Homo sapiens: one gene and its partners. The protein of the gene in region 6 purifies or fractionates together with the protein of the main gene of each other region. This does not show direct contact. Each region holds a gene or a part of one and is shown on either strand. Other genes may lie near its edges.

Region 1 (2,367 bases), on a different chromosome or scaffold from region 6:
GCTGAGACGGGCAGATTACCTGAGAGGTCAGGAGTTCGAGATCAGCTTTGCCAACATGGTGAAATTCCATCTCTACTAAATATACCAAAACTAGCCAGGCATGGTGGCGGGCACCTGTAATCCCAGCTACTCGGGAGGCTGAGGCAGGAGAATCGCTTGAACCCAGGAGGCGGAGGTTCCAGTGAGCCAAGATTGCACCACCGCACTCCATCCTAGACAGCAGAGTGAGACTCCATTCCCCCACCCTGAAAAAGAAAGAAATACAGTGTGATAAATTATCACTGTCCTGAGGGAAGTTGGCATATATAACAACATTTCTCAGGAGTCATATATTCACCCTGCTTGCCTTAACATAAAAAACAATAGTGTTTCCTTGAGTCATTATAGTGATGGCTTATTTTGTTTACCAGTGAGATAGAGTGCCTCCTGAGCCTATCTAAAATATTAGTTCTATATTTCACTTGGCAGCTAATAACTAGTTATATCAGATGCAGCATTTCTGGTTCTGAGAAAAGAGTTAGTGATCCTTTTATTAGAAATACTGGTACGATTTCCATACTTAGAAAATTCATTCAGAAAATGAGACTGAAATGTTGTATATAACAGAGAGGCCTAGTTTTATCAGTAGAGTCACAGAGGAGACTCCTATAACAAATGGTGATTTTATGAAGCAGAGTGGCTAACATCTTTATAAGGTGGAATCTACTTGGTGAAGTCAAAGTTATTAATAACTTCAATATTTTTCCATTGTTGAGCTGTTATGTAATGTTTTCCTTCTTTTCTCTTATAGCTGTCCCAGAAAATACTTGACAAATTGGAGGACTACCAGCAAAAAGTTGATAAGGCAACACGGGATTTATTATATCGTCGGACCTTGTGATTTGGATTGTCACCTAGCCTTTGTAACCGCTTGGTGCCTCTTAGGACTTAAGACTACCCTACAGGAACCCTGTACTCAAGGCCGATTTTTGTAACTGTAAATGATGTGTACAACATTCAAGTCTGCATTCTGCACAAGATAGGAGGGCGGAAGAGTCAGAGGACCCTGTGCTTGCTGGTGGTGCTAACACAATTTCTGGTGTTCAACCTTGGTCTCAAATAGCTGCTTTTGTATATGATTCACGAGCTTTTTTAGAGTTTATATTTTTTTAAACTACCGAAGACATTCATTATCTGCAAATTAAGACTCACCTTCACTTTCCAAAATAGCTGAGGGTTGTTGGCTTGTTGTAGCTGACCACCAAAAGCAGTCACTGCAAATCTTTTAATTCTTCCCTATCACCTTTTGTATTTTAATGCAATTATTTTGGTCCAGAACTGACCTGTATTTTCTGTATTGTACACAAAAGCTAATAATTTTGTGTACTTTTTATTTATTTTGGAGGTTTTATATGATCTTCAATTGAGTATTAAATAATTTGCCTAGATTAAGCCTAAAATGATGACCAGCTAATTAAAGAAGATATTTTGAATCTGGTTCTGAGCTAAAGTTGAGTAAATTCTTAGCTAAGAAAAAATTGGAAATCCATCATCTATATTAGCAACAGATTCTCAGAGTAAATTGTTAACTTCTATGATTTATGATAATCAAGCTGGACTTGATCATACAAGTTAGTCTCATAATGTATTGGACCAAAATGTAAACTTCATTGGTCAGATTTAGAAGCATTCATGCTCACAAGTTTTGGGAAAGTGAAAAATAATAAAATCATCTTGGATTTTATTCTGTATATTAAAATTTATCTTTTAAGGAAACAATCTGTATACTACTTGCTTGTATAGCCTTTTGACCCTTCTTGAGTTTTTCAGAAGCCTTTAATTTTTATACTTTCAATACCATATTTACATTATATACTTTAATTAACAATGTGAGTTTCTCTGTGGTACTGTTGTTGATAGATACTGAGGTGTGTGTTTCTTTTTTTTTTTTTTTTTTTTTTTTCATTTTAGCTCTACTATGATTAATACGAGGCATTTGGTGCAATTAGGGACTGGGAGAGCCCCTGTCCTCCCAGCTCTCTAAACCTGTGGCTTTCAACGACAGTAAGAAAGACATTTTGACCTACATACACATATATAACCAAAAGAAAAGTTTCACAAAATTTGTATCCTCACCTACAGTGTATCCTGATGTTTTCATGAGTGACTAATGGATCATAACCCATAGTATGAAAACATCAAGGGCCAGGCGTGGTGGCTAACTCCTATAATCTCAGCACTTTGGGAAGCTGAGGCAGGCGGATCACTTGAGATCAGGAGTTCAAGACCAACGTGGCAAAACCACATCTTTCAAAAAAAAAAAAAAATTAGCTGGTCGCAGTGGTGCGTACCTGTAGTCCCAGCTACTAGAGGGGCTGAGGCGGAAAG
Region 2 (3,500 bases), on a different chromosome or scaffold from region 6:
AAACCACATATATCTAGTATAATAAGACGAGTATGTTTACCTGGAACCCAGGTCAGTGGAGCACATACAGCATTACTTGCACTGATCCTATGTGCATACTTAATTATTTCTTCAGAGGAGATAGCACCTGAAAGAGTTTTAAGAGGACAGTATAACCTGTAGTCTAACAAACATACAAGTTTAGAAATGTATCTATCAGTTACACATCGTATTTAATTTTAAATTATCTGAAAATAAAATAATCTCAGTCACCTGCCTTCCTTAACAATACCTACATGTTTAGTATAAACTTAAATCTCCAAAAACAGGACACTAATCCAGAAAAATTAGCTGACATAAACAAATTTCGGAGATTAGCACCATAGCACTCAATAATCTCAATTATTAACTACCGTTAAATACCATTCCTCTTCTGAAAGCATAGTGAGCACAAATAAAATAGAGAAAACAGTGTTTCATTTCTCAAAGACATCCAAGCTATGAAATCAGAGCAGACAGTTCACACCACTCTGTTCGATCAATATGCCCTAAGGCTCTTAAGTAGACCTAAATAGAAAGATGTCTACAATGTATTCATTAGGTAAAAAAAAAAACTAAACTGCTAAATAATATGTACGGTATGACCCGACTGTTCAAAATGTATGTACATATGTGTATTTGTATTTTTATTACATACATACTCACAGATCTAGAAAAAAAAAATCTAGGACATATACCAAACATTAATAGTTACCTCTGAGAAGTGAGAACCACACACTTCATTTTACAAACTTTAGATACTGTTTCAATGTAACAAAGTGTATGTGTGTACAGTTTTTGAAGATTAAAAACAGAATCAAACAACGGTCTAGAAGTCAACAGCCAGCCTCAGCCATCTCTCCTAGAGATTTGTTTCTTGCTACAGAAGCCTAACCTAACTCTCAAAAGAATATTAGCTATTTGGCTGGGCGCAGTGGCTCATGCCTGTAATCCCAGCACTTTGGGAGGCCGAGGTGGGCAGATCACGAGGTCAGGAGATCAAGACCATCCTGGCTAACACAGTGAAACCCCGTCTCTACTAAAAATACAAAAAATTAGCCGGGTGTGGTGGCGGGCGCCTGTAGTCCCAGCTACTCGGGAGGCTGAGGCAGGAGAGTGGCGTGAACCCGGGAGGCGGAGCTTGCAGTGCGCCGAGATCGCGCCACTGCACTCCAGCCTGGGCGACAGAGCGAGACTCCGTCTCAAAAAAAAAAAAAAGGAGTATTAGCTATTTAACAGAAGCCTTTGAAAAAGGGACAGCAGGGCAGGAAGGCATGTGGGCCTCTGCACCACCAAATGTGCTTATATGCCAAGGGTATAACTGGCTCTGACTTCATGTACGTCTGGCTCTGACTTCATGATGTTTCAGTCCCAGCGCAGTTGCCCAATGGATGTCTTTTCACTCTCTCTGTCCTAACCTTCAAGATTTGGTACAAATCCCACTTCTAACCCATACTTCTCTTTCCCTCTCCCACCAATTTTATAAACTCACTGTTTTTACTGCACATTTGGGCACACAGCCATAAACTGCCTTGTATTAATTGCTTTTTATAATCTGAAAAAAGATGTGATACTTCTACCTCCCTCACAAAACCCAGCACAATGCTAGAACACAACACACTTTACAATAAAAATTTACTGAATCTTTTCAACAGCAGCAAATGATTATCAGTAATATCCTCTTGTATTGGTTTCCTGAAACCAGAACCTTAACTTTTCAGGTCATTCAGTCTTCCCATGATACTAACCTTTTCTTGCTTTTTCTATTGACTTGAGTTTCTCCTTCGCTTGGTAAACAGCTGTTGCCTAATTTAAACAACATTTAAAAAACGTGGTTTATTCTTCAACTATATCAAACTTAGTTTTTGGCTTAATTCACAAGATCCTTTAGCCTACAAGAACAATCTTTGAAACTTGGAAATCCCAACAATTTATTTGTAATGTTCTGAAATACCACTTGACATTATTTATTTCAGTCATATTTAATGAAAGAAATATTATATTTATGAACTAGTCTCCCATTCACAAATTAGTTGTAGAAACAAAACATAAATTGGATTGTCTTTTTCTTCACGTCTTCTACCATAAACATGCAGAAGACACCCAGACTATGGACGACCCCAAAAGCATCCTATTCTTGCAACTAGTTCAAGAATAAAATACCCTTTTTTCCCCTAGTTTGGAAGATACAACCTTGAATTCATATTCTTATTCGTTTATATATCAGCTCAATGTTTAATGACTTTATCACAAAAACACTCCCTCCAAGCCCTCAGGTACACTAAAGGACAAAATGAAGTTAACCTAGTATATGCATATCTTCGACTATGACACTGTGGTTAAGAGTATGGAGTCAGGCCAGGCACAATGGCTCACACCTGTAATCCCAGCATTTTGGGAGGCCGAGGCAGGCAGATCATTTGAGATCAGGAGTCTGAGACCAGCCTGACCAACACGGTAAAAACCCATCTCTACTAAAAATACAAAAAATTTATATGGGCATGGTGACACACGCCTATCTCAGCTACTTGGGAGGCTGAGGCAGGAGAATCGCTTGAACCCAGGAGGCAGAGGTTGCAGTGAGCCAAGACTGTGCCATCGCACTCTGGCCTGGGCAATAGAGCAAGAGCAAGACTCTGTCTCAAAAAAAAAAAAAAAAAAAAAAAAAGAGTATGGAGTCAGAGAGATCAAGGTTTAAATTCAATCTACTTTTTAGCCTCCATGGGCAAGTTAGTTATTAAAGTATTGGTTTCTTCCTCTAAATGACGACACTGACTTGATATAAACTGTTAGGAAGATGGAAGTAATGCATATAAAATGCAAGGCACAGGGCCTGGTGCCTAAGTGCTCAATCAATGTTAGTTACTACTATTTAAGTCATGAAATTCAGTTTTATGGTCCTGTGTTCACTGTCTTTAATTATTTATAACACAAAGTGGGAAAATCAAACAAAGTGGATACAATTATATGAAAAATGCTTAAGTTTCAATAAACAGTAATTGAAAGTCTGTTAGTATCCTGCTAACTACAATTACCTAAAAAATTAATACACCTGAGACTCAAAGGAAATAGACCAAACTATGAATAGTGGCATTCTTTCCGCAGCTGAACTAAAGACAATTTTTTCCCTCTTCTTTCCATTTTTCTGTATTTTCTGAATTTTGTTTGATAAGCAAGTATTACATACATAAGGATTTTTATATACATATTTACAGATTTTAATATATATATAATATATACAAACATATAAATAATATATTTTGAGACAGAGTCTCCCTCTGTCGCCCAGGCTGGAGTGCAGTGGGGTGATCCCAGTTCATTGCAACCTCTGCCTCCCGGGTTCAAGAGATTCTCCTGCCTCAGCCTCCCAAGTACCTGAGATTACAGGCGTGAATCACCATGCCCAGCTAAATTTTTTTGTATTTTTAGTAGAGATGGATTTCACCATGTTGACTAGGCTAGTCTTGTACTCCCGACCTCAG
Region 3 (3,500 bases), about 90 Mb from region 6:
TGCTTCACTGAAAACTTTTATCTCTACCATGAAACACACCTGCAGCTACTTGCAATGAAACCTCTCCATTGACTGGAATCCTGTCAGCATTAAATACCAGATACATAAGAAAATTATTAAAATATGTACAACCCTGCATTAAAAAAAAAAAGGATTGAATGAATTTGAGTATATTCTGAACTCACCTTGAACCTGGGTTCAAAATTTACTCATGAAAGAAACCTTTATGACATAGTCCATGAACAAAACTGGAAAAGGTCAGAGGGAAACTGGCAAACCAACAGTGTCAAAGATGGTCCAATGTTACCACCACCACCTCTTAGTCTCCAAGCAGAGTATTTAGTTGACTATTTCCATATCTCTCAATCAAATTCAAGTTAATAGACTAGTAGGATCAGAAATACAAAGATAATAATTTGAAAAGACTAAATTTTACTCAGAGTGAAGACCCTGACTAAATTTATTAAGAGCAAGCTTAGTTCTTAATAAGTAAATCAAGTATCTTTAACGCATTAACTCATGGTAGCATCTAAATACTGACCTGAAACCAACTCATAAAAAATTCTGAATGTCATACAAGTTCTCCTATCCTCTACATAAAACTTAAATTTTCACTATAAGGTTTTGAAGAAATAGATGGATTCAGCTTTATACTGAAAATGCCTATTCATTTTAACACTGCGAGAAAAAAGAAAAGTGCCTTTTCATCCTGGCACCTGAAATCTGAATTGTTTTTTTTTAACTGGGCCTGGAAGTAATCTGATCCTTAATTATTGCTTAGGGGAGGGAATAACCCTACAGGCTGAAGATTTCATTAGCAGCCCACCAGTCTCTTGAACATAATGTGGCAATGCTTCTATCATGTGTGTGTGTGTATATATATAGTCTCCCTTCCGTCCCTCCAAAATAATAAATAACTTTAGGTGAAGGACATCAGAAATAGCAAAAAAATGGAAATATGGAAATTATGTGAGTTTTTTTTTTAATACATAGGACATCTAGCCTTTTATGGAGTAAGTCTGCCAACTCCAGTCTAGGTTGTAGAATGCAGAATGATACAGGGAAATACTGAACTGATCCAGCTCCCTCCACTGAATGGCTGTATGTGCTTTGACAAGTCACAATCTCTTTCAAAACTAGTTGCCTCATTTATAAAATGCAAACGCCTGAGTCCCACACCCAATCAAATGAAATTCAAAATCTCTGGGAATGGGGCCCCACACATAGCCTCCCCCAGGTGATTCTAAAGCATAGTGAGGACCGAAATCCCGAGATTAAATGATGACTAAATCTCTTCAGCTCTGCTATTCTTTCTATAAATAACATAGTTTGTAACACTGATTTTTTTAAAAGAACTGCATCCTAAAAATAACCTTCCTCCTGATATAATCCAAACTTAAGTTCTATGTATTTTATACAATTAAAAACAAGTAGCTACAAGTTAAGTCACTCTACAGCAAATACAATCTAAATAAAATTGTGTCAAAATATTTCAAATTTTAATTAATGACAGAATGTTATGGTCTAGGTCAGGAGTCAGCAAACTTTTCTGTAAAGAGCCAGATAGTAAATAGTTTAGGCTTTGTGGGCCACATGGTCTTCTGTTGCAACTACTCAACTCTGCCATTCTAGTGCCCAAGTAGCAGTAGAGAATATAAAAGTAGAAGTGTGTTCCAATAAAACTTTATTCAAAAAAACAGGCAATAGTCCAGATTTGGCCTGTGGGCTATACTTTACTGACTCCTGCTCTAGCTGATACCACAAAACTCTATAAAATAGAATTTAGACTAGATTCAACCTGCATAAATTATTTCTAATTACAGTTGAAATTCTGATACTTCAATCTTTGGCTGTAAAACAAGAGTTGGACACAAACTCTCTGACATAACTGTAAAAAATACTGGAATTATAGCCAAAGTTACATTAATAATATTTATCATACTTAAATACATATAATCTTCAGTGGACAGATGGTAAAATAGAAACAAAATACTCAGGATGCTTATTTAAAACAACTAAACAATGTTCTTAGTTGCCTGAATTACATTTTATACGATTTTATTTTTATGGCCTATTTCTGGTATTCCTACATACTTGCAAGAGATTTTAAAATCTAAGTAGCTTAATTGAGCTCTTATTTAAATAACATCACCTTTCCATGTATAGTAAACTGTTCATATTTCTACAGGTACTAAGAGTACACTGGAATTACGTGTTACATATAAATGGAGAGGTGGAGGGAAGGGGGAAAACTTGCACTAAGTCGCCTAAGAGATAAACTGATAATGTTAGTAAGACAGCTTTGTATTAAAAACTTTTTATACTACAAGTTACTGCAGAATCATCTACTGTAAGTTTTATCTCCCCACCAGAAAACTGAAATGTTGATTTACAATATTAATGTAAAATATTTAAAAATAAATAAAACAAATGTTGTTTCCCCTAATAAAAACTTAATACCTATTATATCAATGTACTACAAATCAAGGAATTAAGAACTTAAAGTTTAATGAGTATAGAAACAAAAAACCATGAGCCAACTCCCTTTCAACACCTGCTCACCTGAATACTGAATACCATACTGTTGAGGCTGCTGAGGTGGAGCCTGCGGCTGCTGTGCACCATAGCCGGCCTGTTGCTGGTACTGTTGGTACATCTGACCTGAAAACACACACACACACACACAAGGAAAAAAGGCATGTTTAATGTGGCAAAGAGAAATATTTTTAAGATACATATACATTCCCTCTCCATCCAAACAGAGTAACAATATACAAGAAAGTATTTGTTCAACTTTAAATGTCTATGAAGAAGAGAATGAACCATTTTAGAAGTGTGATTCCTCTGCTGTGGATTAACTGCAGAGAACTAACTGGCAATAAACATTAAGTGCAACACCAGTGGCTACCATTTCATAAAGTCTAGAAAAACAAATGTTTTCCAACCCAGCTGCCAACAGATAAGTAACGCTAATGTTCATTAAAAGCCAAGTGAGTTGAAAATCAGTAAATAAAAATGAGAAAAGGGACAAATACCATTTATATCATCTAAGTCCTTCCTAAAGCACTGTATTTGCCCTCTAAAGGTATGGGCCTCTATTACCATATGAACAAACTCTTTGGTAGCAAGGAACTATATGACATCTTTTGTTCCAGAGCTGAAAGACACTTTTGGAATTTGTCAAGTTTGATTTTCTATGAATATCCAACATCTTTTGCCAATAACGTGGACTCTAATAAAGTCTAAATGGTTCTTCATTGCACTATTTAATAATGGCAGACCTTTTTAACAACGGTGATGTGTTCTTGAACATGGGAGTCCTATTTGTCCTATTTGGGGTCAACAACCACTGTTCCTATGAAGAAACCCTTTAGACACTTATTACCTATGATTTTTCTTTTTACTTTTTATTTTTCTGTCCTCACAATCTGTTCCCATACCTGTGATTTTCAAGCAAAGATTTATTGGTTTATGTCTTTATTATCTCTACTTCTCAATTA
Region 4 (3,500 bases), on a different chromosome or scaffold from region 6:
CCACCAACACTATAAAGGTGCCAACTCATTCTACTTTCTGAGGCACTGGATAGTTTTTAAATCTCTGACACTCTGGTAGGCAAAAAATTATGTTTAATTCTTTATAACTAATAAGACCCTATTATTAATTAGGTTGAACTCCCTCCCTTGTATCTAGTAGCCAGCTTTACTTGCCCTTCTGCGAACTGTACACTCAAATCTTTATTGTTTCTCTCATGCATTCTTGTTTTTTTTTTCTTTTTTGAGACAAGGTCTTGCTCTGCTGCCCAGGCTAGAGTGCACTGGTGCAATTATGGTTCACTGCAGCCTCAGCCTCGACCTCCTGGGCTCAAGCATCCTCCTAGCCTCCCACTTCAGCTTCCCTAGTAGCTGGGACCACTAATTTTTTTCTTTTCTTTTTTTTTTTGAAACGGCGTCTTGCTCTGTGGCCCAGGCTGGAGTGCAGTGGTGTGATCTTGGCTCACTGCAACCTCTGCCTCCTGGGCTAAAATGATTCTCCTGCCTCAACCTCCCCAATAGCTGGGATTACAGGCATGCGTCACCATGCCTGGCTAATTTTTATACTTTTAGTAGAGACAGGGTTTCATCCTGTTGGCCAGGCTGGTCTCGAATTCCTGGGCTCCATCGCCTGCCTCAGCCTCTCAAAGTGCTGGGATTACAGGTGTGAGCCACTGCTCTTGGCCCTGTCTCATGCATTCTTATGAGCTCTTTACACACAAATGGTTTTAACCCTTTAACCCTTTATCTATCTATCTATGTATCTATCTATCTATCTATCTATTTATCTATCTATCTATCTATGAGATGGAGTTTTGCTCTTGTTGCCCAGGCTGGAGTGCAATGGCACGATCTTGGTTCACCACAATCTCCACCTCCCAGGTTCAAGCAATTTCCCGAGTAGCTGGGATTACAGGCATGTGCCACCAAGCCCGGCTAATTTTGTATTTTTAGTAGAGACAGGATTTCTCCATGTTGGTCAGGCTGGTCTCAAACTCCCGATCTCAGGTGATCCACCTGCCTCAGCCTCCCAAAGCGCTGGGATTACAGGCGTAAGGCACCCTGCCAGGCCAACCCTTTAACCCTTTAAAGGGTTGTTCCAAACCTATGTTCCTAATTTATCATAATTTTGTATATGATTTTTTTATTTATTCAAATATGTTTTTATTCTTTGTCATTTCTTCCACTATTTTGTGCCTAGAAAGTCCTTCTTCCCCAGAAGAACTCCTAAGGTTTTAATGTTTTAACCCTAAGTTGGAGACCAATACTCAAACAATCTGACTCGTGTAAAAAAAAGCTAGTGAAAGAGTCAACCTGAAAGAAGCCTGTTTGTTCTCTGCCAATGATGGAGTACTTGTTAAGTGAGATTTTTATCTTTTTAATGAGAAAAGCTTGTCTAGGACATCTTACAAGAACAGTGTGAAAAAGCACATTTCTAAAACTGAAGAACCTGGCAGTGGCATGGTCATTATTTTTAGAAAGAGGGGAAGGGGAGTGTGTGTGTGCTGTGACACGTTGTTAGAGAAATAAGGCAGATGCAGGACTGCTAAAATAACAGGGTTCAGAGACTCACATTTCCATTTGCACTGATCTTTAGTTCAAAAAAGGAGACAGCCACAAATTAGAAAAGTAATTTCCATTATATCTTCTTTGAGACAGTAATGGGTAAGGTTAATAACTAAAAATCCCTTATTTGGCAGGCTATTTTAACTTGGCTGTCAATTTAATTTCCTTCTGCTGTATGCAGAAGAGTCATTATCCTGGTAGCTGGTTTAGCAGCCAATATGCATAGAGATGGGTAGAGGACATGATGGTAAGAACAATCTACCTGCTAAGGCACTGACAAAGCGATACTAAGAATCTAATTGGAAACTGCTTCAGCATTTCCCTTCTAGAACTTCTGAAAAATAACCTCAAGACTATGAAGATATATAGATTTATAGTTTAATCCCTTAAGGTCAGGGCAATAAGCAAGTTCTCTAACCAAGCAGGAGCCCCTTCTGCTGCCTGTTCAGAGATATGCAAGAAATGTACCTCCAAAGAATCTTCTGGGTTTACTGATTCACAAAAATTTTCATTAGCTTTTAGTTCAATTTAATAAGCAAATAATGAGTGCTATCATGCAAAAAGGAAACATTTTTCTGTGTTGGAAAGTACCTTAGTGACTGAACATTAACTCTGTTGATATAAAGAACTGGTAACCCAGAGAAGTTAAAGGACTTGTCCAAACAGCAAGTTACTAGAGTGAGTGTCGGAAATTGGAGTAAAAATCAAAGTAAGCAAAATGTCTTATCTCCTAGTGCCAGGTTCTTTCCACTACATCACTGGCTTTCATGGTATAGGTTGAGTAACCCTTATCTGAAATGCTTACGACAAGAAGCGCTACAGATTTCAGACACTTTTGGATTTTTGTAATATCTGCATTATTTCTTTGCACAACTATTTGCGCATCCCTAATTCAGAAACCCCAAATCCAAAATGCTTCAATGAGCATTTCCTTTGAGCATTATGTTGGCACTCAAAGTTTTAGATCTTGGAGCATTTTGAATTTCAAGATTTTCAGATTAGGGATACCCAACCCGATTTTTTTTTAGACAGAGTCTCACTCTGTCGCCCAGGCTGGAGTGCAGTGGCGTGATCTCAGCTTACTGCAGGCTCCATCTCCTGGGTTCACGCCATTCTCCTGCCTCAGCCTCCTGAGTAGCTTGAACTACAGGTGCCCGCCACCACACCTGGCTTTTTTTTTTTTTTTTTTTTTTTTGTATTTTTAGTAGATACGGGGTTTCACCGTGTTAGCCTGGATGGTCTCGATCTCCTGACCTCGTGATCCACCCGCCTCGGCCTCCCAAAGTGCTGGGATTACGGGCATGAGCCACCGCGCCCGGCCACCCAACCCAATTTTTAAAAATAATAATTATTTTTTAAAAAACAAAAGTAATGGCCAGGCGCGGTGGCTCATGCCCGTAATCCCAGCACTTTAGGAGGCTGAGGTGGGCGGATCACCTGACGTCAGGAGTCCGAGACCAGCCTGGCCAACGTGGTGAAACCCCGTCTCTACTAAAAAATACAAAAAATTAGCCAGGCGTGGTGGCACACACCTGTAATCCCAGCTACTTGGGAGGCTGAGGCAGGAGAATCGCTTGAACCCAGGAGACAGAGGTTGCAGTGAGCAAAGATTATGCCACTGCACTCCAGCCTGGGCAACAAGAGCAACGCTTCGTCTCAAAAAAAAAAAAAAAAAAAAAAAAGTTCCTACCCTGGGAGGAAAGGCAAAATTGGGAGTTTATTGTTTAATGGGTACAGAGTTTCAGTCTTGTTAAGACAAAAAGAGTTACAGAGATTGATTGTATAACAATGTATTTAACATGAGTCAACTGTACATGTAAAAATGGTTAAGATGGTAAATTTTATGCTAAATATATTTTATTTAATTAATTTATTTATTTTTGAGATGGAGTCTCACTCTGTCGCCCAGGCTGGAGTACAATGGTGCAATCTTGGCT
Region 5 (3,500 bases), on a different chromosome or scaffold from region 6:
CTCCTGTTGCCATGTAAAGAAAGACATGTTTGCTTTCCCTGCTGCTATGACTGTAAGTTTCCTGAGGCCTCCCGAGTCACTGTGAGTCAATTAAACCTCTTTCCCTTATCAATTACCCAGGCAGTTCTTCATAGCAGTGTGAGAACGGACTAATACAGTTGGTGATCCTGATCCTGTGTAGGCCTAGGGTAATGTGTGCTTGTGTCTTAGTTTTTAACAAGAAAAGTTTAAAAAGTAAAAAATAAAAATAAAAAAATTAGAAAAAAGCTTATAGAACAAGGATGTAAAGAGAGACAATATTTTTGTACAGCTGTACAATGTGTTTTAGTTTTAAGTTAAATGTTATTACAAAAGAATCCATTTTTTTAAGTTTATAAAGTAAAAGTCAGCTAAGGCTTATTACTGAAGAAAAAGTTTTTTATGAATTTAGTAAAACCTAAGTGTACTGTGTTTATAAAGTCTACAGCAGCGTACAGTAATGTCCTAGGCCTTCACATTCACTCACAACTCACTCACTGAAAGCAACTTCCAGTCCTGCAAGCTCCTTTCATGGCAAGCACTATACCAGTGTACCATTTTAAAAAAATCTCTTATACCTTATTTTTACTGAACCTTTTCTATGTTTACACTTGTTTAGATACACAAATACTTACCATTGTGTTATAATTGTATTCACTACATTTAATATGCTGTACCGGTTTGTAGCCTAGGAGCAATAATAGACTATACTAAGGTTATAGCAATAGTCTTGGCGTGTAGTAGGCTACACCATTTAGATATATGTAAGTTCACTCTACAATGGTCGCACATGACGATATCACCTAACAAGACATTTCTCAGAACATATCCCCATTATTAAGTGATATATAAACTGTATAAGCTTCAATCATCTGACCCTTCTGCAGATCTAATATAATGTGGGCCTCCCGTGCATATGCACGTAATTAAAATGGCTCTCCTCCTGTCACTGTCTAATGTTCATTTATTTTAGATTCAGTTATCAAAACTTCAGAGGGACTTTTCTCTCCCTTTAGTAACCTGCCCAATGCCACAGGGCATGGAAGTGGCAGAACAAGCACTAGCATCTACTGCCATGCAGTCTGACTCAGTTGCTTCCTTAGTCATAAAGCTCTGCCTCAGGTGGTAACAGAAAGCTGCTTAGGTAAATTCATGCAAGCCCTAGAAATTCCTAACCCAGTGAGGCTTCCCTCCGGGCCTGGGCACCTAGAGAGATCCCAGGAGCCCAGGACCAGCCTCTACCTGTAAAGTGAAGAATCTCCGTCCATTGTTTGCAGATGTAGATCTGGACATCCGTGCCCCCAAGAGCCAGGTAGGTACCACTCTGGTCAAAGATCAGTGACTTTACCTGCCAGAAATAGAAAGAGAGAAGGTCACACAAGGGGAACAGAAACTATGGGGCAGTTGCGGATAAGCAGAAGCAATTAGATTAATTCAATAAATAATTGACAAACAAGGAGACACAATGGAAAGCTGGGCGGAGGGGGAAGGGCACACCTCAAAGTTGTTATCCAGCTGCAAAGTCTTAAAGTTCTTAAGCTTGCGCAGATCCCAGAGCTTGACAGAGGAGTCATCAGCCGCTGTAGCCAGGTAGTAACCATTCTCAGAGAAGGCGATGCTAGTGATGGGGCCCGAGTGGCCAGGGAAGTTGGCCACATTAGTACGTTCCTACAGTGGCGGTGGGTAGTAAAATACGTCACCCACAGATCATGAGAGGAAGAAAATGGGGCTCACCAAACTCCTACCTGAGATGTCCCTCACGTCCTTCCAGGAAGGACAGCCAGCGGGACCCCCCAGACCACACCATCATATCACACACGCACAGCCAGTGTCTCTCCACCTTCAGGGCCAGGTGCCACAAGCACCTAATTAGCACTGCATTGTCACAAACACTCCCTCTGGCCCTGGGCCTCAGATGGAGGCCTACCATGTCCTACCTTCAAGTCCCAGATCTTGATCTGAGAGTCCATGGTTCCTGTTCCAAAGATGAGTCCGTCAGGGTGGAACTGTGCACAGGTGAGAGCTGTGGAGGAGGGAAGAGAGACCTGTGGTCAGAGCCCACCAGGGAGAGAGACTAAGAGCAGCAAAGGTAGGTTCCTTGTTCTTCACATTCCTCAGTGAACCCAGCACAAAGCCCGCACTAGACAGGTGCTCATGGTAAATATATCTTTAGAACAAATAAACAAATGACTAAATAAAATGTAAAAATAAATAATAAACAGCAAACAAAAAAGCTGAGTGCCTATGAGGCAACTTACAGCAGCCGGAGGTCTCATCTGTCACCTTGGTGAGCACACGCCCTGTCTGGATGTCAGAGAAAGCCCAGTACTGGGGAAAAAAAAAGAGACAATGGAGTCAGTGAGAAAGTGGGTCCCAGGTTCTGGTGGCCCTTCAGCAAGACAGAGCCCCTGGTTTGGCAAACCCTGGCAAACATTCTCCTTTGAGGTTCTGGGGAACCAGCTGGGGTGGGAAGATGTTCCTGCCACCCAGGATGTTCAAGCTTGGGGACCAGCAGGCCTCTCCAGGGCACTGGCTGGGACCGCACCTGATCATCGGAGGAGCTCAGGAGATAGTCGCCAGTGGCATGAAGGCTGAGGCCTGTCACAGCACTCTCATGGGCCCGAACCACCTGTACACAAGAGGCATTGGGGACCGACCAAATCCTGATAGTGGCATCGGGGGAAGCAGAAAACACCAGGTCCTACAAGGAAAACAAAGACAGAATATCAGAGTCAGAAAAGAGATACAGACCAAAACAATCTTATAAAACGGGGCTGGGGATGCCCACAACTGCCAACAATTGCTTCTCCTTTCAGCTCTGCCCTCCCTGGAACCACCTATCCACCCAATGGTGCCCAAGACAGCCAATGGTAAACGCTATTAAAGTGCTAACTCATACAGCATCAGGGCTTGTGGAGGCGTCCTCGCCATCTAGTGGTAAAAAGGCTAACTGCAACAGAGAGCAATTTTCCCATTTCCAGGACCAAAGGAAAAATGTAGCTAGTACAATTGAGGGACTGAATTTTTTATTCTATTTCATTGAAATTTAAATAGCCACATGCAGCTAACTGCTACTGTACTGTATGGCACAGGTCTGAGCAGTACTGGGACTGGAAGGGGCTGCATGGCTGTATTTCAGTGCATTCCACTTTTATGGATTTCCAGGGTAAGTTAATTTTCCAAAAGATTTGGGGCAGGGAGAGAATTTCGCGTCACTCACCAATTTTTTGTTTAGTTAGGATATTAAAAGCCATAAGGTAAAAATAACTACCATCTTTTTTTATCAATACAATTTCATGAGACCTAACTATTAATACCCCATAAGCAAGAAAACAGTGCTCTCAATTTGAACAAATTTAGTCATGAAAAATTCACCATGTTATTCTTATATTTCTCATTTCCCTAAGGTCCAAGGGAAATCTTGACTGCGAAGCACTAAACCAACCATGTCCTGCAGCCCCAAACCCAAACTGTCTTAGGCT
Region 6 (3,500 bases):
TGGTACTCTGGTTTCCTTTCACACAATAAAGATGTGCATGTTCACTTCAATGGTACGTCTGCATTGTCCCAGTGTGAGTGTGGGGGTGTGTGTGAGTGCTCCTCTGGTGGAATGGTATCCTGTCCAGGGCTGGCTTCTGCCTCATGCCCTAAGCTGCCAGGACAGGCTCCAACCACCTGTGACCCTGAACTGGAATGAGTAGATTAGAAAAAGAATAGATACAAATTATTGTAGAATTAAACTCATAAAATATCCAATAATCATACAGATGCATGACAGCAAACGATGTGGCATTAGTCATATGAGCCCCCCACATTGGTTATTGTTGGTTTTTGAACTGTGTGGTGGTAGGAGGTAGGACATTGATGTTCGCTTTGCAAACATTTATTCCTTGATTGAACCACCAACATCACGACCACTGTCACTCGCTGATTCACCAAAAGTTGGGTAAAGAATGACCTTGTTTATATTAATCTTTCTTAAATGTATGCATAGCTCACATACTTTTTAAAAGTTTTAATAACACCACTCCATTCTACAGGGTCCCAATGACTACTGCAGGGCATGTCACCTGGAGGCAACCATAGCTAAGGTGGCAGTGAGCAGGCTGCTGCTGCACCAGCCCTCCCCTGCTTGGGAGCACACAACAAGGAAGCAGTGCCAAGCCCTGCCTGGTCTGGCTTCAGGGCAGAGAGGCTCAAAGCTGCTCTAGAGCAATCATGTCTGGTCAGCTGACCACTCCCCGGCCCACTGTCCAGCGGGGACCCTCCCGTGCCACCCTCTAGGGAGGCTGCAGCAGACACGGGGCAAGGCAGGCGCTCTCACTGCACGAAAGGCAGGGGATGGACTCACGGTGTGAGCGTTGTTGATCTTCTTTACTTCCCATTGGCCTTCCCCGGTGTAAGTCAGCAGGGAGATGGCCCCATCCGAGCTCCCACAGGCCAGGATCAGGCCGTAGTCATGGGGGGCCCAGCACACCGAGTTCACTGCGGGAAGAGGGAGAGTGCAGTGAGCAAAGCAGGGAGACCGCGGCCCCAGGTCCCGCCTTCCACAGATTTACTGTTTTACTAAATGTCTACAACAAACAACTGTAGGAGTCACCGGGGGAAGCTGTAACTTGGTCAACTGAGGACACAAAAAAACCCCATCACCTACTAATACCACGATTTCATAACCTACAGTCTATCTAACAAAAAAGTGGGTAGGAAAACAATCTGAGAATGAAGGGTAGTCCTTGCAATGAATAATCCTGAAGAGAAACTCACCTGTCTTTTCTTATTTGCTTTGGACTGGCTTTAGGTCTTAGGGCCTTACTCAGCTGAGGACAGAGTAGCAGAAAAGCCAACCAAAGCTCAAGAGACAGACAAGAGGCACCACGAGGGGCAGGGAGCCAGGGCTCCAGCCGGGACAGAGTCCTTTTTTACCCAGTGGTCCCCTTGCCCGCTCTGCTGCCAAGCTCAGCATACCTGAGGAGTCGTGTCCCGCATGCTCGTGGCTCTTCTCCCAGGTGCCGTTTTCCTCTCTCCAGATAATGACTTTCCGGTCATAGGAGCACGATGCCAGGATGTTGCCGTACATGGGGTGAGCCCAGGCCACTTGCCACACAGGACCCTCATGACTACAAAGGGAGAGATAGGCCAGAGGAACCCACAGTGCCTCTGCAGGCACTACTTTGGACAGAACTAAATGGCTCCCTGAGACGATATATCAGGGCAGAATTGCTTAAGAACTTCAAAGGGAGAACTATACAATGCCATTGCAAAAGGGGTGCTCAGTGGACAGTGAGGAGCCTGAGGTCCTAAGAGGTTAAGCAACCTAAGGTCACAGAGCCTTTGAGAGAGAGTTGAGCCTCTGGGTCAGCCTTCCTGTCCTGGCCAGGCAGGAGCCTCACTTGCCCAGACTGCAGCCAGCACTGTCTGTATGTGCTGTCTACAGCATAGTCATTAATTGGTCCAAGGTTTCCAGCCAGAAGTGTTCAGGAAATATTTGTAGACTGAATTGCTATTCATCCTTCCCGACGGTCAGCTTCCTGAGGAGGCATTATTGGTTTCATTTTGATGTTTTCCACTACTCTTTTAATTTGTTCGAAAGGCATGTCTTTCCCTTCTCTTCTGATCTTTATCCATTCACCTGATAACAGGTGCTATCTGAGCACATGCTCTGTGCCAGGCTTTGTACGGTGACCATTTCTCTGGCCCAGGGAAGGTTTTGCACCTTAGCACTCAAGAGGTAGAGTAGCATGGTAGAGTTAGTGGTTAGGAGACCAGACCCATTCTCCCATTCACTAGCTCTTGACTTTAGGCAAGGATATCTTTGTCTCTTTACCTGAAAATGGAGACATCAATAAGAATTCTTTCATAAAGTTTGGAACAATGCTTGGTAGAAGGAAAGAAAAAAGCCACTCAATACCCATTAGCTATTAGTGCTGCTCCTGGTTTACTCCTTCACCGTGGGCTGCACACACTCAAGTCTCCTCCTCCCTCTGGCTGGGACAACAGGACATTCCCAGTCCCTACAAAGCTGCTGCTAATGAAACTGAGTAGACTCAATCTTCCAACAACTAGCACAGTTTTTACTAAGGGGAAAAAAGAATGGGGTGGGAATTTTTTTTATCCCTCCAATATTTCACATCCTTTGAATGTAAGAAAAACAGCAGAAAGGACAGAGTCACAGCAAACATAACTGCCTTGGCCAACACGCTGCACTGCAGCAGCTCTCTGCCTGCCTGGGGGGCTCCTGCATAGAGAAGCTTGATTTGGCTCCTCAGTCACTTGATCATTTGACACTCAGACAGAGGGGAGCTTCTAGGCCCATTTCCCCAAATGGACACTGACTTAGTTTATGCTTTTTAATTCAGTGAACAAACACATGCTGAGCACCCACCTGTCATGGCTCTTAATCTTTTCTGTGCATTCTGGGGAAGGTTATGGACCCTCATCAGACTAATGTACAAAACACACAGAACTAGGCTTATAAAGAAAATTCAATTATAAATTATACAGTAATCAACTTTTTTTTTTTGAGAAGGGTTTCACCCTGTCATCCAGGCTGCAGTGCAGTGGCACCATCGTGGCTCACTGCAGCCTCAAACTCCTAGGCTCAGGCCATCCTCCCACCTCAGCCTCCCAAAGTGTTAAGGATTACAGGCGTGAGCCACCTTGCCCAGCCTGTTATCAAAATATTATAAAGCAATTTATGAGATAGTGATGCATGTACTTCTTTGTTAACACTTCAAGCAACAAACCCTAGCGGCAGGTCTAATAACCACTGTAATTTCAAAGTTGTGATGAGCATAAGTGGTATTTTGAGGTAGCTAAGTAACCGTGATGTGTGATGACAATATCTGTGAATTCTACTGGTGACAAAGTGACAGGCACTACAAATACTACTGAAGTTTCTGGCCTACATCCATAATTGAAGGAAATGCTAAATATCAGAGTCACTGAAAATGCATTTTTTTCCCCCTGTCCCAATTCATCAACCCCTGAACTCTATTCACA
Region 7 (3,500 bases), on a different chromosome or scaffold from region 6:
AAGAAAGCCTAGGTTGGCGCACTGGATGTGGTAGATTGCAAAAACGGCCCCAATCTTATCCTTCACGCTTCTCTGTATCACCCACCTCTGTATCCATGTCTTTTGTCACGTAACTCTAGCACCCTCCCATTCTAACTTTAGGACTGGTGACATGACTCGCTTTGGCTAATGAGATATTTGCAAATGTGATAAAAGCAGATACTGGAAAAACATTTGCATGACCGGGTTTGTTTGCTCTTGAGTTCTGCCACTACCATGAGAATATGCCCAACTTAGCCTGCTAGAGGATGACACAGAGAAGAGAAATTTCCCCCGTCATCCAAGCTAAGGCAATTCCATACCAGCCAGTAGACAGCCGACAACAGAACAGGTACTTTAAAAACTGCCTATCCAAGCTCTGCTTAAATCATTGACTGCAGACTTGTGAAAGGAACAAATGGTTATTGTTGTCTGCCAATGAGGTTTTATAGGTGGTTGTTTTGCAGCAACAGATAACTAATATATTGGGCAAACATTCTCCATAGACGTGCATTTTTCCTTCTCTAAAATCCAAACTTCTAGGCTACAGTGCTCAAAATCTTCTGGGAAAAGGCCAATGACTAGGCTTTACCTTCTGGGAGACCGGCTCCTACTCCTCCTGTAGCGCAGTGTGGGAGAGCGACGGGGCTTGTCCAAGTCTCGGTAGCTTCTCCGGCGGTGATCAGGTGATGGCACTCTTTCCAACTGGAAACAAGATGATTGGGTCATTGAAAGGCACAGGCTTATAAAGAGCCATCTAGGAACACTAATTATACTTCACGCCCCATCTTGTCCCAAAGTCCATCTCCATGTGACTTTAAAGCACAGTAACCTGACTACAAAGAGGGAAGCACTTACCCTATTAACTAACAAAACTTATTATGAGCTATATAAGACAGCCAAAATGACTCATAGGAGAGGGAACAGAAACAGACCTGTGTGTGTGTATGTGTGTATGTTTAGTTTATCTGCAGCCTGGGCAACATGGTGAAATCCCATCTCTACAAAAAAAATACACAAATTAGCCAGGTATGCTGGCACGTGCCTGTAGTTCCAGCTACTTGGGAGGCTGAGATGGGAAGACTGCTTGAGCCTGGGAGGCCGAGAATGCAGTGAGCCACTGCACCTCAGCCTGGGCAACAGAGCAAGACCCTATCTCAAAAAAAAAAAAAGTTTGCTTCCTGGAACAACTGGGCAGCTTGGTTGTTTTCAACTTTTCAGCACCGTAACTAGTACTGAAAGAACATGACTATGCGGTTGACATTTTCCCCCTCCTAAACAAGGTTTATTCCTTAGGATAGGTGCAATTATGAAAGTGTTCTTTCTTTCCAAGTATTTAATAGCTGCCACCATTTATTAGGCAATTATAATGTGCCAATACTCTGCTAAGGGCTTTAAGTTTATAATCTTATTTAATACTTTTAACAGTCTTGGGGAAAAAAGTATCATTAACCTCACTTTACATAGGAGAAAACTAAATTTAAGTAATTTGCGTAAGATTATACTACTAGTATATGGCAGAGCTGAGGTGCTTTTAATAAGGAAATATTGTTTTTGGCTAGAGTTAGAAAAAAAATTTTTTTTGAGACGGAGTCTCACTTTTGCCCAAGCTGGAGTGCAGTGTTGCGATCTTGGCTCACTGCAACCTCTGCCTCCCGGGTTCAAGCAATTCTGCTGCCTCAGCCTCCTGGGTAGCTAGGATTACAGGCACCCACCACAACGCTGGCTAATTTTTGTATTTTTAGTAGAGACGAGGTTTCACCACCACGTTGGCCAGGCTGGTCTTGAACTCCTGACCGCTGGTCATCCACTCGCCTTGGCCTCCCAAAGTGCTATGATTACAGGCTTGAGCGACCACGCCCGGCCAATAGAGTTAAAAATTAAAGTCTAAAAACAAAAAACCATTCCCATTTTCTATTACTCCCTCCCCTACAACCATAAAAGTCTCAGGTGCCAGACCTTCTCATCCTCCTCTTCTTCCTCTTCACTGGACTCCACATCATCCATGTCCTCTTCCAGAGCACTAACTCGAGGCTCCAGTTGCTCAGCTTCCTCTAATACATAGCGTTTCTACAGAGAAAATGATGAGAGTTAGGGGTTGTTGCCATTTCCCCTATTTCTTGAAACCTCAACACTGGGCTTCAGGGTTCCAAGGAGCAACAGCTGAGGCAATTTCATTTCAAAGACAGTTCAAGATTTTCCTAACAAGTTTAATAGACCTGAAATCTATAAAGTTCTCCTATAAACATAAATACAAACCTGAAGAGAACATCTTCATTTTCTATTGACTCTATTCCCTGTACCTTATACTCTAAAGTCATGGGAATATCAATCAGTATAGGTACAGCCTAGAACCAAAAGTAAGGGCTTCACACACAGAGAAAATCCAAGGGCTAATAAGTTCATGGCTGGTAGTTCCACTAGAAGAGGCCTAGCCCTAGAGTAGTACCAAATCTCCAGTAGACCCAGGATCTCGGGAGCTGTTGATATTCATGCATTTTGAACTGGTTCCATTTTAATCTGGGATATGGCTTAGCAATGTTTATTTGAGTGGCTAAGGATCAGAGAGGCAAAGCTGATTTCAAAAATGCCAAATGGCTAAATGTAGTGGCATGTACCCGTGGTCCCAGCTCCTTGGGAGACTGAGGTAGGAAGATCCCTTGAGCCCAGGAGTTTAAGAACAGCCTGGGCAACACAGCAAGACATTGTCTTGCTATAAGAATTGGGCCCTCAAAGTAGGTTTTCAAATTTATAATCTCATTCTTTCCACTACATGCCCTACAGTGCCAACATGGAACAGGAGAGCTGTATCACACTCATTTCCTGAAAAGATGCCTCATGGATAATCGTTTATCACTAGGAAAGGGAAGCAGGATGGTGAAGGCAAGTTTAAGGAATTAATGGCTCAGTCTCCCACTCCTGGCCCTATTTTTATCTGTTTTATGTCCTGGCTTTTTACATGAAGATTAGTTTAAAAAAAACGTTCATGAAGTTAAAAACTCCCTACCTACTCTAGCTACAATACCCTTGATGTAACATCCTGAATAAATTTCTTTTTTCATGATAGACAGGTAATGTGCTGACTTTGTAACAAGGTTTGAGGGAGGCACAACTCACACATGCACCTGAACTACAAAAGGATGGAGAAAAACAAAGTTTCCTTGTTTTAAACCATTCACTTTTAAAGCCCTACCCTTCAAATATTTTATCTATTTTCCTCTCACTCCCAATCCACTATCTTGGGACTCCCAGACAGGAAGACTATTCATTAAGAGGACCCATAAGATCCACAGGCTTCAGTGTTTAAGCTGTGTGTATGTGTTTGTCTGTCTGCCCGTCTAGGAAGAGAAGGGTGACTCTGGTAACAGACTTTTATTTCTTACCTGTAGTCGGGGCAGAATGATATCACAGACTCTCTCACTGTGCAATAGTTCATCAATAAACTCATCAACATGCATCAATTCAAACTCTGCAAGAAAAAG

The links.
Region 1: the proteins of SEC13 (region 6) and NUP160 purify together in Homo sapiens (affinity purification with mass spectrometry; 6 studies listed by BioGRID and IntAct, with this or other methods). This does not show direct contact.
Region 2: the proteins of SEC13 (region 6) and MED4 purify together in Homo sapiens (affinity purification with mass spectrometry; 2 studies listed by BioGRID and IntAct, with this or other methods). This does not show direct contact.
Region 3: the proteins of SEC13 (region 6) and TFG purify together in Homo sapiens (affinity purification with mass spectrometry; 3 studies listed by BioGRID and IntAct, with this or other methods). This does not show direct contact.
Region 4: the proteins of SEC13 (region 6) and KLHL12 purify together in Homo sapiens (affinity purification with mass spectrometry; 3 studies listed by BioGRID and IntAct, with this or other methods). This does not show direct contact.
Region 5: the proteins of SEC13 (region 6) and PRPF19 fractionate together in Homo sapiens (co-fractionation; one large-scale study listed by BioGRID). This does not show direct contact.
Region 7: the proteins of SEC13 (region 6) and PRPF38A purify together in Homo sapiens (affinity purification with mass spectrometry; 3 studies listed by BioGRID and IntAct, with this or other methods). This does not show direct contact.

Annotation. Positions count from the first base shown.
Region 1 is NC_000011.10:47,777,618-47,779,984, reverse strand, and holds the end of NUP160 (nuclear pore complex protein Nup160), read left to right. Parts: intron 1-790; coding exon 791-880; 3' UTR 881-1,867; downstream 1,868-2,367. UniProt on the Homo sapiens protein: Functions as a component of the nuclear pore complex (NPC). Involved in poly(A)+ RNA transport.
Region 2 is NC_000013.11:48,081,605-48,085,104, forward strand, and holds part of MED4 (mediator of RNA polymerase II transcription subunit 4), read right to left. Parts: intron 1,825-3,500; coding exon 1,767-1,824; intron 128-1,766; coding exon 41-127; intron 1-40. UniProt on the Homo sapiens protein: Component of the Mediator complex, a coactivator involved in the regulated transcription of nearly all RNA polymerase II-dependent genes.
Region 3 is NC_000003.12:100,743,994-100,747,493, reverse strand, and holds part of TFG (protein TFG), read right to left. Parts: intron 2,662-3,500; coding exon 2,563-2,661; intron 1-2,562. UniProt on the Homo sapiens protein: Plays a role in the normal dynamic function of the endoplasmic reticulum (ER) and its associated microtubules. Required for secretory cargo traffic from the endoplasmic reticulum to the Golgi apparatus.
Region 4 is NC_000001.11:202,903,235-202,906,734, forward strand, and holds part of KLHL12 (kelch-like protein 12), read right to left. Parts: intron 1-3,500. UniProt on the Homo sapiens protein: Substrate-specific adapter of a BCR (BTB-CUL3-RBX1) E3 ubiquitin ligase complex that acts as a negative regulator of Wnt signaling pathway and ER-Golgi transport.
Region 5 is NC_000011.10:60,896,586-60,900,085, forward strand, and holds part of PRPF19 (pre-mRNA-processing factor 19), read right to left. Parts: intron 2,720-3,500; coding exon 2,564-2,719; intron 2,347-2,563; coding exon 2,277-2,346; intron 2,042-2,276; coding exon 1,956-2,041; intron 1,687-1,955; coding exon 1,516-1,686; intron 1,367-1,515; coding exon 1,261-1,366; intron 1-1,260. UniProt on the Homo sapiens protein: Ubiquitin-protein ligase which is a core component of several complexes mainly involved pre-mRNA splicing and DNA repair. Required for pre-mRNA splicing as component of the spliceosome.
Region 6 is NC_000003.12:10,311,113-10,314,612, forward strand, and holds part of SEC13 (protein SEC13 homolog), read right to left. Parts: intron 1,619-3,500; coding exon 1,467-1,618; intron 987-1,466; coding exon 853-986; coding exon of another isoform or gene 718-852; exon of another isoform or gene 464-717; intron 1-463. UniProt on the Homo sapiens protein: Functions as a component of the nuclear pore complex (NPC) and the COPII coat. At the endoplasmic reticulum, SEC13 is involved in the biogenesis of COPII-coated vesicles.
Region 7 is NC_000001.11:52,411,102-52,414,601, reverse strand, and holds part of PRPF38A (pre-mRNA-splicing factor 38A), read right to left. Parts: intron 3,488-3,500; coding exon 3,402-3,487; intron 3,161-3,401; exon of another isoform or gene 3,080-3,160; intron 2,089-3,079; coding exon 1,978-2,088; intron 724-1,977; coding exon 611-723; intron 1-610. UniProt on the Homo sapiens protein: Involved in pre-mRNA splicing as a component of the spliceosome.